Linked DNA regions of Homo sapiens: region 2 is linked to region 1. Evidence: fine-mapped expression QTL. A gene starts in region 1. The other region holds a variant in brackets. All regions are shown on one strand. Distances are between the middles of the regions. Region 1 holds the start of SLC12A7 (solute carrier family 12 member 7). Region 2 has its middle 30 kb from the start of TERLR1.

Evidence for each region. PIP is the estimated chance that this variant, and not a neighbour inherited with it, causes the effect.
Region 2: its variant is the best candidate, but not a certain one, in a credible set for the expression of SLC12A7 in nasal epithelium (TOPMed, PIP 0.54).

What each region holds. Positions count from the first base shown.
Region 1 is chr5:1,110,155-1,115,409 of GRCh38, reverse strand. SLC12A7 (solute carrier family 12 member 7) reads left to right here and starts at 3,347. Exons shown (of 24, transcript NM_006598.3): 1 at 3,347-3,542. The coding sequence starts at 3,419.
Region 2 is chr5:1,145,986-1,151,460 of GRCh38, reverse strand. It overlaps a transcript of SLC12A7 not described here. Among named protein-coding and RNA genes, the nearest start is that of TERLR1, 30 kb to the left of the region's middle. The variant G/A (reference allele first, on the strand shown) is at 3,110.

The sequences.
Region 1 (5,255 bases):
GAGAGCCCTCCCAGGCCACAGCCCTGATTCCAAGCCGTGGGCACGAGCGGCCTCCTGGCTTGGAAGCTGGCATTGGGTGTCCGTCCTAATCCATTAGAAACTCCACCCCAGGGTGGCAGGCAGCAGGGACTGTTTCGAGAATCTACACACAGAATGTAACCACCATCGGCTACACTTTCGCACTAAATCCCAGGGTTCCCCTGGCTGTGCCCTGCACACGGCCAAGAGGCCATCGCAGATGACCAGGCTCACATCATAAGGATGCGAGATTGCATTTGAAGAGGCCCCCTGGGCAAAGCTGGACACCGATGCTTGGAAAGGGCACTAATGGTGATCGACTGAGACCCACCAATGTGTTTCATCAGCGATGTACAAATATACTTGGGAGATTGTCGGGAACCAATTCACCGTTGTGGAAACTGACAAATGAGGGAGAGGCACCCTTGCCCTGCCTTTCCTGTGGGCACCATTATCCAGATGGCCAGACGGACAAGATGAGCCTCTCCCTCCAGTGAATTCATGACGAAGCCACCACGCACTGGAAAATCACCATTTTGCTCCATGAATCTGTCGATTCAGACATCAAGCACCAACGACTGCGGACGGAGGAGCTACCACCAGACAGTGCGTGGCTCCCTCTGCGAGCCCCCGGCCTTGCCAGGGGACTGGACCCGGATCCCAGCAGTCCCCTGGCTCCAGGTGCCCACTTCCAGGAGACGCAGAGGCCTGCACCGAAAGATGCAGCTCCAACCCAGGCCTCGGGTACCTCCACGTGTCCGAGGGCCACTTCCTACAACAGGTGCCGGGTACAGAAAAGGACAGAGGGATGGAGGTGGGTAGGAAGAGAGCACTGAAAGTCACACAACGCACATTTAACCCCAGGCTGCCGTGTGGGAGGATATACGTGGACACGGAAACCCACAGAGCGAAGGGAGGGGCCACCAGACCCCTAGGGATGGGCTACTGATGGGATGGGAGGGGCCTGCAGCGGCTTCTGGGCTCCGGCAAGGGTCTCTGTCTTGACCCGCAGGTGCTTACAGGGTGCTGATCCCTGTCGTGACTCACCTGATTAGAATGCAAAAGGCAGCAGACCTCACCCCCCACCCGAGGTCTCCCACAAGTAAGATCTAAGATTTAAACAAGAGAAGCCACCTGCCTTCTGCCTGGCAGGGCTGGGCACCCACCCAGGTGCTTCAGCCATGGCCCCTGGTCCTAGTCAAGATTTTGTAATCACAGAGAAGACCACCCTCGGAGCTGCCACAGGACCCTAAACTCCTGGGCCTCAGTTTCCTCCTCTGTAAAATGAAGCTGATGAGTCCTGAGTCCGGGAGCTGGCCCTGGCCACAGACCCTCCAAACCAGCTCCTCTGAAGGTCCACAGCCAGCACATGGCGGGCAGCCGGCCCTGGGGTCCTGGGGTGTGAAGCAGAGCTTGGATGTGCGACGGGAGCCCTGCACATCTGTTGCTCCTGCTGGCATCACTTGGGAAGGCCTCGTGCCCACCCTGAGCTCTGTCCAACCCTCGGGAATAGCGCTGGGTGGCAACCAGGGTTGAATGTACAGAAGCCCCTGCTGGGGTGACTGAGGAGAGGGTTTACCCAGCACCCTAAGTGTGAACCCTATAATTGACCCCATTGGGCACTTCTGTTCCCACCCCCTGGATCTTTTTAGCAAAGCCAGCCCTCCTCATAAGGATGCCTGGGAACTATTTTATCTTCTGGGGAGGTGATGGTTTCCTACCTTCCAACCCACTGACCCAGGGAGGCAGCTGACCTAGCACCATCCACAGCCCTGAGCTCCCTTTGGTGGGAGGTGGGGTGAGAGTGTGGAGCAGGCACAGCTCCAGACACCCAGGCCAGAGGAACCCCCACCTCTGCAAGGGCTGGTGCTGGATGGGCGACGTTCCAGGAGGGTCCCAGGCCTACAGCTTCTGCCCAGAAGAGTCCATGGGGCAAAGGGGTAGAACCCTAGGCCACCCCAGGGCATGACTGGCTTTACTGGAAATGGCTGGAGAGGTTGGGCTTGCGTTCCTTGAACCCACAGAGCCCGGTGATCCCACAGCCCGGAGGCCATCACTCCCCTCCAGCTGCCTTTTAGGATTAGACAGGCAAGCGGCTAAAACATGGCCAGGCCATACCCATTTTCCACGTGACAAGAGGCTGTGGCCGTGTTTGCCCACACCACCTGTGTTTCTGCTTTGTTGTCGTACAGCAGTTGTGGGTGATTAGGAATAAAGGCTGACTCATTGCACCTGTGTGCCATAGCATTTTAGCCCAATTCCCCATTGACGGACATCTGATTGTTCCGTTTTTCATGAGTCATTTGTTGAGAAATGTGCCAGGTGCTGGCCGGTGGTATCCTGGTGTCTGCCTGGTGGGTTCTGGAACTCCACCTTCCCTGCATCACCCTGTGAGCTTCTGGAACATTTCCCAAGGAGGGAAGGGAGGGTTCTAGGGCAGGGGCCGCGGGGCACTCCTGGGGCAGGTGTGGAGGAGACTGGGGTCTTCGTGGGTGGTATTTGTCATGGGTGGGGGGGGGGACTCCCTCTACTGGGTTAGGTCCCTAAACTGGAGCTGGACCAAGCTCCGGAGTACCCCACCCCCAGGCTATCCAAGGCTCCTTCCACTGGAGTTGCCTTTGCAGCCAGGTTGGGCTAGCCAGGAGCCAGGCTAGGAGCCCAGGGTCTGAGCGGGTGTTGACAGCCTGGAGTGGGTGGGCGGACTGTGTGGGAGGTGGGTGCTGGAGGATGGCAGGGGGGAACAGGAGGGGGAAGAAGGAGGGGTAGGGGGCTGGAGCAGGAAATGGGGGGCAAACAGGAGGGGGTGCGGGAGGGGGCGCAGAAGGAGGAGGGGCCCAGCAGGAGGGGGTGCAGAAAGGGCAGGGGTTCCAGCAGGAGGGGGTTCATAGGGGCAGGGGGGCCCAGCAGGAGGGGGTGCAGGAAGGGTGGGGGGGTGCAGGAGGGGTGAGGGGTTCCAGCAGAAGGGCGTGCAGGAGGGGCAGGGGGCTGGAGCAGGAGTGGGGGGTCGGGGAAGGGGACAAGAGGGGAGGCGGGGAGGGGGCCGGGGAGGGCGGGGAGGGCGGGGAGTTCCAGCAGGAGGGGCAGGGGGCTGGAGCAGGAGGGGGTGCAGGAGACTGAGCGGGGATTCGCGGGCTCTGCGATGGTCGGGAGCGCAGGCAGCGAAAGCCCCGCGTCCCGGGTCGCGGCGGTCAGACAGACGCAGCCTGGGTTGGGGTCCCTGCAGGAAGTCGCCGCGGGCCAACTTTTCGTGGGGCCGCGGGGCAAGCAGGTGAAGTCACGTGGCCCGGGCGGGGCGGGGCGGCTCGGTCGGACCCCGCCCCTGCCTCCAAGTCCCGTGGCGTCGGCGGGAGCGGCGCAGCGCGGGCCGGGCCGGGACGGGGACTGTCGGCTGCAGGCGGCCATGCCCACCAACTTCACCGTGGTGCCCGTGGAGGCTCACGCCGACGGCGGCGGGGACGAGACTGCCGAGCGGACGGAGGCTCCGGGCACCCCCGAGGGCCCCGAGCCCGAGCGCCCCAGCCCGGGTGAGCGCGGCCGCACCTGGCCGGACAAAGGCCGAGCGCCCCGAGCGCGGGTCTGGGCCCGGCATCCGGGAGCGGAGGCGGGCGGCGGGGCCGGGGGTACAGGAGGCGCCCCTTCCCGCGCCCCCACCGCCTGTTCTCGGTCCCCCACGAGGGCCCCCACCCCACGTTAGTGGCAGCGCTAGGGGGCGAGGGGCCCTGCCAGGGCTCCCGGTACGGTCAGCTCGGGTGGGACCGGGGGCAGAGGTGTGGACGCCGCTGCTGGTAGCCATGGAAACGGGGAGGGGCTGGAGCGCGCCTCCGGAGGGAGCCCGGGCCCCTGGGTGGTCCCTAGTGGGACAGGGGTGGCGGTGGAGACCCGGGCGGTTCGGGAGCCGGGGCGTCCTGCGTCCCCCGCGCTCTCCCTTCCCCTGCGCCGCGGCCGTCCGGTAACACTAGCCCGGGCCGGCCCGTCCTGCCCCCGCCTGACCCTGGAGGAGCCGCCCACCCCCCAGAGGCGGAACAGGAAGGACTGCGCCCTGGCTGGGGAGGGGGCAGCCACCGGGGCCTTGCTCAGGCCGCGTCCTCCGTGTTCCCGTCCCCCGTTCCGGGAATCTGGAGGTTTCTAGCACTTTCACTTTCTCTAGGGGGTGGGGACGGGGCTGGGGAGAGAATCCCCCAGCCCTGTTCCCTCCATCCTGGCTCCAAATCCCAGTTACTCCCCGGATCTCAGCCCCCTCTAGAAACCGGAGGCTCTTAGGCCCTTCCATCCGGAGTCTCTGAGAAGGTGTCCGGACTCAGTCCAGCCCCCACCCCGCGTGCTGGCAGTGCCCGCATGTGCCCGGGTCTCATGCAGTGGGTGGCAGCCTCCCTGCTCCCTGGCAGTGGAAGGAAGGTGAGGTCTGTCCAGGGACAAGTCCGGTGCCAGACCCCAGATCCTTCCTAACCCACCATCCCGGGCAGGAAAGGCCAGACATCCCCTCCAGGCAGTTTAGGAACCCGGAGACACGGGTGGGGACCCACCGTGAAGGCAGTGGCCTGGTGGCCTGGGGTGCGTCATCAGGGTCCCCGTGGCGGGCGAAGAGTGGTCTCAGCTTCCTCTGCACAGAGGCCAGCCCAGATCTTGGAAGTGGTCAGGCGGGGCGCCAGGCTCAACACCAGGTGAAGTGCTAACTAAGCAGGGTCCGTGAGTCCAAGCCCCTTCTCTCCAGTCACCACCGTGGAGGCAGGAAGCACCAAGGAGTGTGGGCCCTGGCGTGGTCTTTCTGTGTGAGCTTTGTAGCAACGCCCCCGGAACGCACTCAGAAGGAGCCTCTTCTTGTCTGGCCGGCCCCTTCTCAAGGCTGATCAGGTTCACTTTTGTCTTTAGACTGTAAGTGTCATTTGCTTTTAAGCCAGAGAGAATTTTGTGCTTGTTCGTTTTCTTGTCTCTTCTACTCTCAAGGCTGTTGAGCAGTGCCCTGGGCCTGTGTCTGCCCAGCAGGAAGTGGCCCTGGCTGAGCGCTGCCCATGTCGCTGCCCGCGCACTCAGGTCCTGCTACGGGCGTGTCAGGAGGCTCCCTGGCCTTCATGAAATTGAGAACGGGAGGGCATGGGCCAGGTGTGGGCTTCTGGACACTTTTGAGGGTGGCCCTGTGGTGTGAGCTGAACTTGGGAGATTTCTCCGAACTGGCAGAGAACTTGCACCTGGCGCTTTTGTGCTGGACCCGCTTCCTACTTCCACAGAAAGGGCCCGGT
Region 2 (5,475 bases), 36 kb before region 1:
GCCCAGAACACTCTGGGAGGCCAAAGGAACCCTCCCCTAGTGCTGGGGCTGGCAGAGGCCGGGCCCCTGCAGACGCCAGCTTAGCAACGGCGCCCACTGACATCTTCAATGAGATGTGTGCCGAGGCCAGGCTGAGGTTTCTTTGTGTGTCTCTGTGTGTGAGTGGATGTCTGCATCTCTGTGGAGCGTGTTGGGTTTTTGCCGCTTAAGGAGAAGGTGAAGAGTTCGTTGCCTGAGCCTTGGAAACTGCTCTGGCTGGGAAGCAACGCTCATGGTAGAAGGCGCCTTTGCAAGCCTGAGCTTTGTGAGCTGGGATCCCGGGGATCTGGAACAGGAGGATCCTTGGGTACCACCCATGGGCCCAGACCCTGCTGGCACAGCAGTGAGGCTCTGGCCCCGCCATCTCCGTCCAGCTCCCAAGGCCGCCCTCCCCATCCGTGGACCACAGGAGAGTGGGCTGCCCCCTCAGCCTTTGCCTTCTGATGGGGGAAAGCCTCAGGAAAATCCCATGTCCTCAGCTGGCTGCATGCTCTCCTTGTTGGGAAAATCAGACCACCAGGCTGCTTCTGCGTGCCCTCCTGGGCCACTCAGAAACGTGGTGTGCAGATCCCAGGCGGAGGCCACTGGTTCTGGTGTCTGAAAACCTGCCAGCCCCACGGGGCAGGCTCTGTTTTCTTTTTGCTTAAATATTTCATGGAGCTCGGCCGTCGTGTTCATCCATGAGCTGCCTCTAGTTATCTGTGGAGCAGGACAAGCTTGCGTTTTGTCACTTTGCTCTTAAAGAAGTCTCGACTCAGTGATTTTAATTTTGGCTTTAAAAGAAAATGCTTGAACGCATGTCCATCCTTTCTGTTCTTTGCTATTTAGTGTTTAATTTGGCTTCTTTTTCCACTGGAGGGGACCTGGGTTTTGAGACACCAGCTCCATGTATACACCAGAATTTTCTTTAAATAAAGACTTGAATATTCGGAAGAGATCCTGCAGCTCAGCTGCTTGTGGCATGAGTTGGGGTCCTCACTGTGGGCTGGGCCTTTGGGCCTTGGTGCAGGGCTCCACCCAGGTGCCTCCTCTGTTCCTCTGGTCGAGGCCTGTGCCCTGAAAATGAGGGATGGGGTTAGGGGGCAGGTGTGTGTGCATGGATGTCGGCTCCTGCATGGCTCTATCGGGGTCGGGGGAGGGGCAGAGGAAACTACAAGCACAGACTAAAAAAAATGCAAACACACATCAGAGGACACACACAGAGTAGAAGAACAGCTCCCGGGATGGGAGAGAGCATTTGCAAATCATAGAGCTGATGAGGGGTTCATACCCAGAGGATGCCAAGAACTCCTACAACTCAACAGCAACAGCAAACAAATACACCCTTTTAAAAATGGGAAAAGGGCTTAAATAGCTATTTCTCTGTTTTTATTGTTGTTGTTTTTTTCTTTGAGGTGGAGTTTCGCTCTCGTTGCCCAGGCTGGAGTGCAATGGCACGATCTCAGCTCACCGCAACCTCCACCTCCCAGATTCAAGCGATTCTCCTGCCTCAGCCTCCCGAGTAACTGGAATTGCAGGCGTGCACCACCATGCCCAGCTAATTTTTTGTATTGTGAGTAGAGACGGAGTTTCACCATGTTGGCCAGGCTGGTCTCAAACTCCTGACATCAGGTGATCCGCCCACCTTGGCCTCCCAAAGTGCTGGGATAACAGATGTGAACCACCGCACCCGGCTTGAATAGCCATTTCTTCAAAAAGATACACAAATGATAATAAGCACATGGAGAGATGCTTCACATCCCTAATCACTAGAGAAATGCAAATCAACACTAATAATTGTGAAGACACCACTTCACAACTATTTGAATGGCTCTTATTTTTATTTTTTTTAATTTATTTGTTTTTGAGAGGGAGTTTTTCTCTGTTGCCCAGGCCGCAGTGCAGTGGCACCATCTCGGCTCACTACAACCTCCACCTCCCGGGTTCAAGTGATTATCTTGCCTCAGCCTCCAGAGTAGCTGGGATTACAGGCACCTGCCACCACGCCTGGCTAATTTTTATATTTTTAGTAGAGATGCGGTTTCGCCATGTTGGCCAGGCTGGTCTCGAACTCCTGACCTCAAGTGATCTGCCCACCTTGGCCTCCCAAAGTGCTGGGATTACAGGTGTGAGCCGCCGCGCCTGGCCAGGCTCTTATTTTTAGAATGGACAATACCGTGTTGGTGAGGATGTTACAAGTGGGGACCCTTGTGCGCTGCTTGTGGGAATGTAAAGTGGCATGGCTGGAAAACAGATGTCAGAAGCTCACACGGTAGCATCATAGGATCCACAGTCCCCCTTCTGGGTGCGGCATCGTAGGATCCACAGTCCCCCTTCTGGGTGTAGGGGCTCAGAGAGACATTTGCACATCCATGTTCCTGGGAGCATCATTCACGGTAGACACAGGTGGAAGCAACCCAGTTGTCCGTGGGTGGATGAACGGATTCATAAAATGTGACATGTACTTTTAAACAAAAATTATGGGCAGCTGTTGTTTTGAATGGAGCTCCTACACCAGGCCCCAATACATCACTCCATTTTGGTTTGGCCTGAAGGCTAAATGGCATCATCAAACTGAAACTTTAAGGAAGCAGATAGATCCCAAAGCTGACCAGTTTTTTCTGAAAACAGGAGACTGCAGTCTACCTGGTCAGTGTACAAAGGAAGTCCCTCTGCTTTAACCCTTACAACAAGGAACCTGAGGGAACCCGATGTCAACCGTCAGCCTTTCTTCTGTTCCGTGTCCCTGTACCCACTTTACAAAACCCACTGTTGGCCATTGCCCAGGGGGAGCTCTCATTCCTCGACTGAGGCTGCCCCATTCGTGAATCGAGAATAAAGGCCAATTCAATCTACAGCTAAATTTGTTATAATTTTGTATAACATTTTGATAGTACATGTAGTGGAATATTATTTAGCCTTAAAAAGTATCAACAAAGGCCAGGTGCGGTGGCTCACGCCTGTAATACCAGCACTCTGGGAGGCCAAAGCAGGTGGATCACAAGGTCAGGAGATAGAGACCATCCTGGCTAACATGGTGAAACCCCGTCTCTACTAAAATACAAAAAATTAGCCGGGCGTGGTGGTGGGC[G/A]CCTGTAGTCCCAGCTAGTAGGGAGGCTGAGGCAGGAGAATGGTGTGAACCTGGGAGGCGGAGCTTGCAGTGAGTGGAGATCGCACCACTGCACTCCAGCCTGGGTGACAGAGCGAGACGCCATCTCAAAAAAAAAAAAAAAAAAAGAAAGAAAGAAAAAAGTATCAACAAAAAAAAGCAAACTCTGTAAAATATTTAAAGAGGTTTATTCTGAGCCAATGTGAGTGACCATGGCCCAGAAAACAGCTTCAGGAGGGCCTGAGAGCCTGTGCCTGAGGCAGTTACAGTTTGGTTGTATACATTTCAGGGAGACAGAAGTTACAGGCAAAGCCAGGCGAGGCATAATCCCAGCTCTTTGGGAGGCTGAGGTGGGGGAATTGTTTCCCTACAGGAGTTCAAGACCACCCTGGGCAACATAGCAAGATCCCGTCTCTACAAAAAATTTTCTAAAAATTAGCCAGGCGTGGTGGTGCACACCCACGGTCCCACCTGCTTGGGAAGCTGAGGCTCCAGTCCGGGAGGTCAAGGCCACAATGAGCTGTGATTGAGATACTACTCTCAGCCTGGGTGACAGAGTGAGACCCTGTCTCAAAAAAGTAATTAATTAATTTAATTAAATAAAGAAGTTACAGGCAAAGGCATAAATCAGTACATGGAAAGTATACATTGATTCGGTGGGAAATGAGGGACATCTTGAAGGGGAGCAGAGAGATTTAAATGTTTTCTGATTAGTATTTGGGTGAAAGAGTTAAGCTGAAGACGTGAAGGCTTGCAGTGGGTGGAAAGAATCACTTGGCTTCAGCTGAGGGGCTGTGGAGACCAAGGTGCTGGTGACGTAGAAGCCTCCAGGAGGCGGCCCCGAGAGGACAGAGGGCAGGCAGGGCCTTCAAATGTGTGGGGACTCCTGGCGGGTCTCTCCGGGTGTGGGACCCTCGGCGGGTCTCTCCGGGTCGGAGGGACTCTCGGTGGGTCTCTATACCAGGGTCAGGCTGGATTTGGGGTCTTACCGCCACAGAGTCTGTTCTGCCGTCTTTGGATAACTATTTTGGAGTTAGTGTGGGTCAGCTGCACCTGAACTCCTAAAGGCGGGGGCGGGGGGGGTGGCGGGGTGGGCCGTGATGAGGAGAGTCCCTCCTCCCTTCTGTCACCGTGGGAATTTAGTGTTTCCTGTTGCCCTGGGTCCCCTTGTCCAAGAGGGGTGTTCCGTTCATTTGTCTGTGGGACTTTGGATTTTGTTTTTAGTTTACAAAAGAAAGGAAATTCAGACACACACTGCCACATGGATGGAGGCTGAGGACATTGTGTGAACGAAATAAGCCTGTCGATGAAAAGAGCGAAAGTCTGTGAAATATTTGAAGAGATTGATTCTGAGCCACACAGAGTGACTGTGCAGTGACACGGCCCTCGGGAGGTGGGCGGGTGCAGCTGGGCCTTAGTTCAGGCGGGCATGAGACATTTAAGATATACATTGGTCAGGTCCAGAAAGGCGGGACAGCTCCAAGTGGGGCTTCCAGGTCATAGGTAGATTTAAAAATGTTCTGATTGGCAATTGTTTGGGAGTTACTATCAATAGAAAGGATTGTCTGGGTTAGGGTAAGGGGCTGTGGAGGCCAAGGTTTCATCATGCAGGTGAAGCCTCCAGGTAGCAGGCTCCAGAGAGAAGAGATTGTATGGTGTTTCTTACCAGACTTAAGGTCTGTGTTGATGTTACTGCTGGTCGGCTTTTCCTAAATTCCGAAAGGGAGGAGGGCGGCATGAGGCATGGCCGACCACCGCTTCCCGTCGTGGCCTGAAGCAGTCTTTCTGGTTAACGTTGGGGTGTCCTGGCCCAGAGGAGGGGTCCATCCAGACGGTCGGGGAGGAGCCTTAGAATTTTATTTTTTGTTTACACTGCAGAGATGGCTTTGAACACCTCTCAGCAGGCCACCACTGCTCCCACCCACATGCAGGCACCCCAGGCTTCATTCCACGGCCAGGTCAGAGGGACCCAGGCCTGGAGGTCCGTGGTCACTGGCCCAGGTGGTCACCTCCAGGGGTCACCAGCATCTGGGCTCCCACAACTCCACTCCAAAAGCCCACCTGCTGGCAGGTCCCTGAGGTCTCATCACAGACCTGGAGACTCTCCCAGAGGAGCCTCAAGAAGGTGGGTGACCAGGGAATGGCCCCTCCTGCTGGGAGCAGGTTCCAGGGAGAGCCTTTGGGAATGAGGAGGGATGGGGCAGCCAGACACAGAAAGGTCAATCCTGCAGAATAACAGTTGCAGGCAGAGCCTGGAGTTGTCAAATTCTGGGAGACGGAGGCAGAACGGGGACTGCCAGGGGCTGGGGGAGGGGAATGGGAGTCAGTTTAATGGGTGCAGAGCTGCA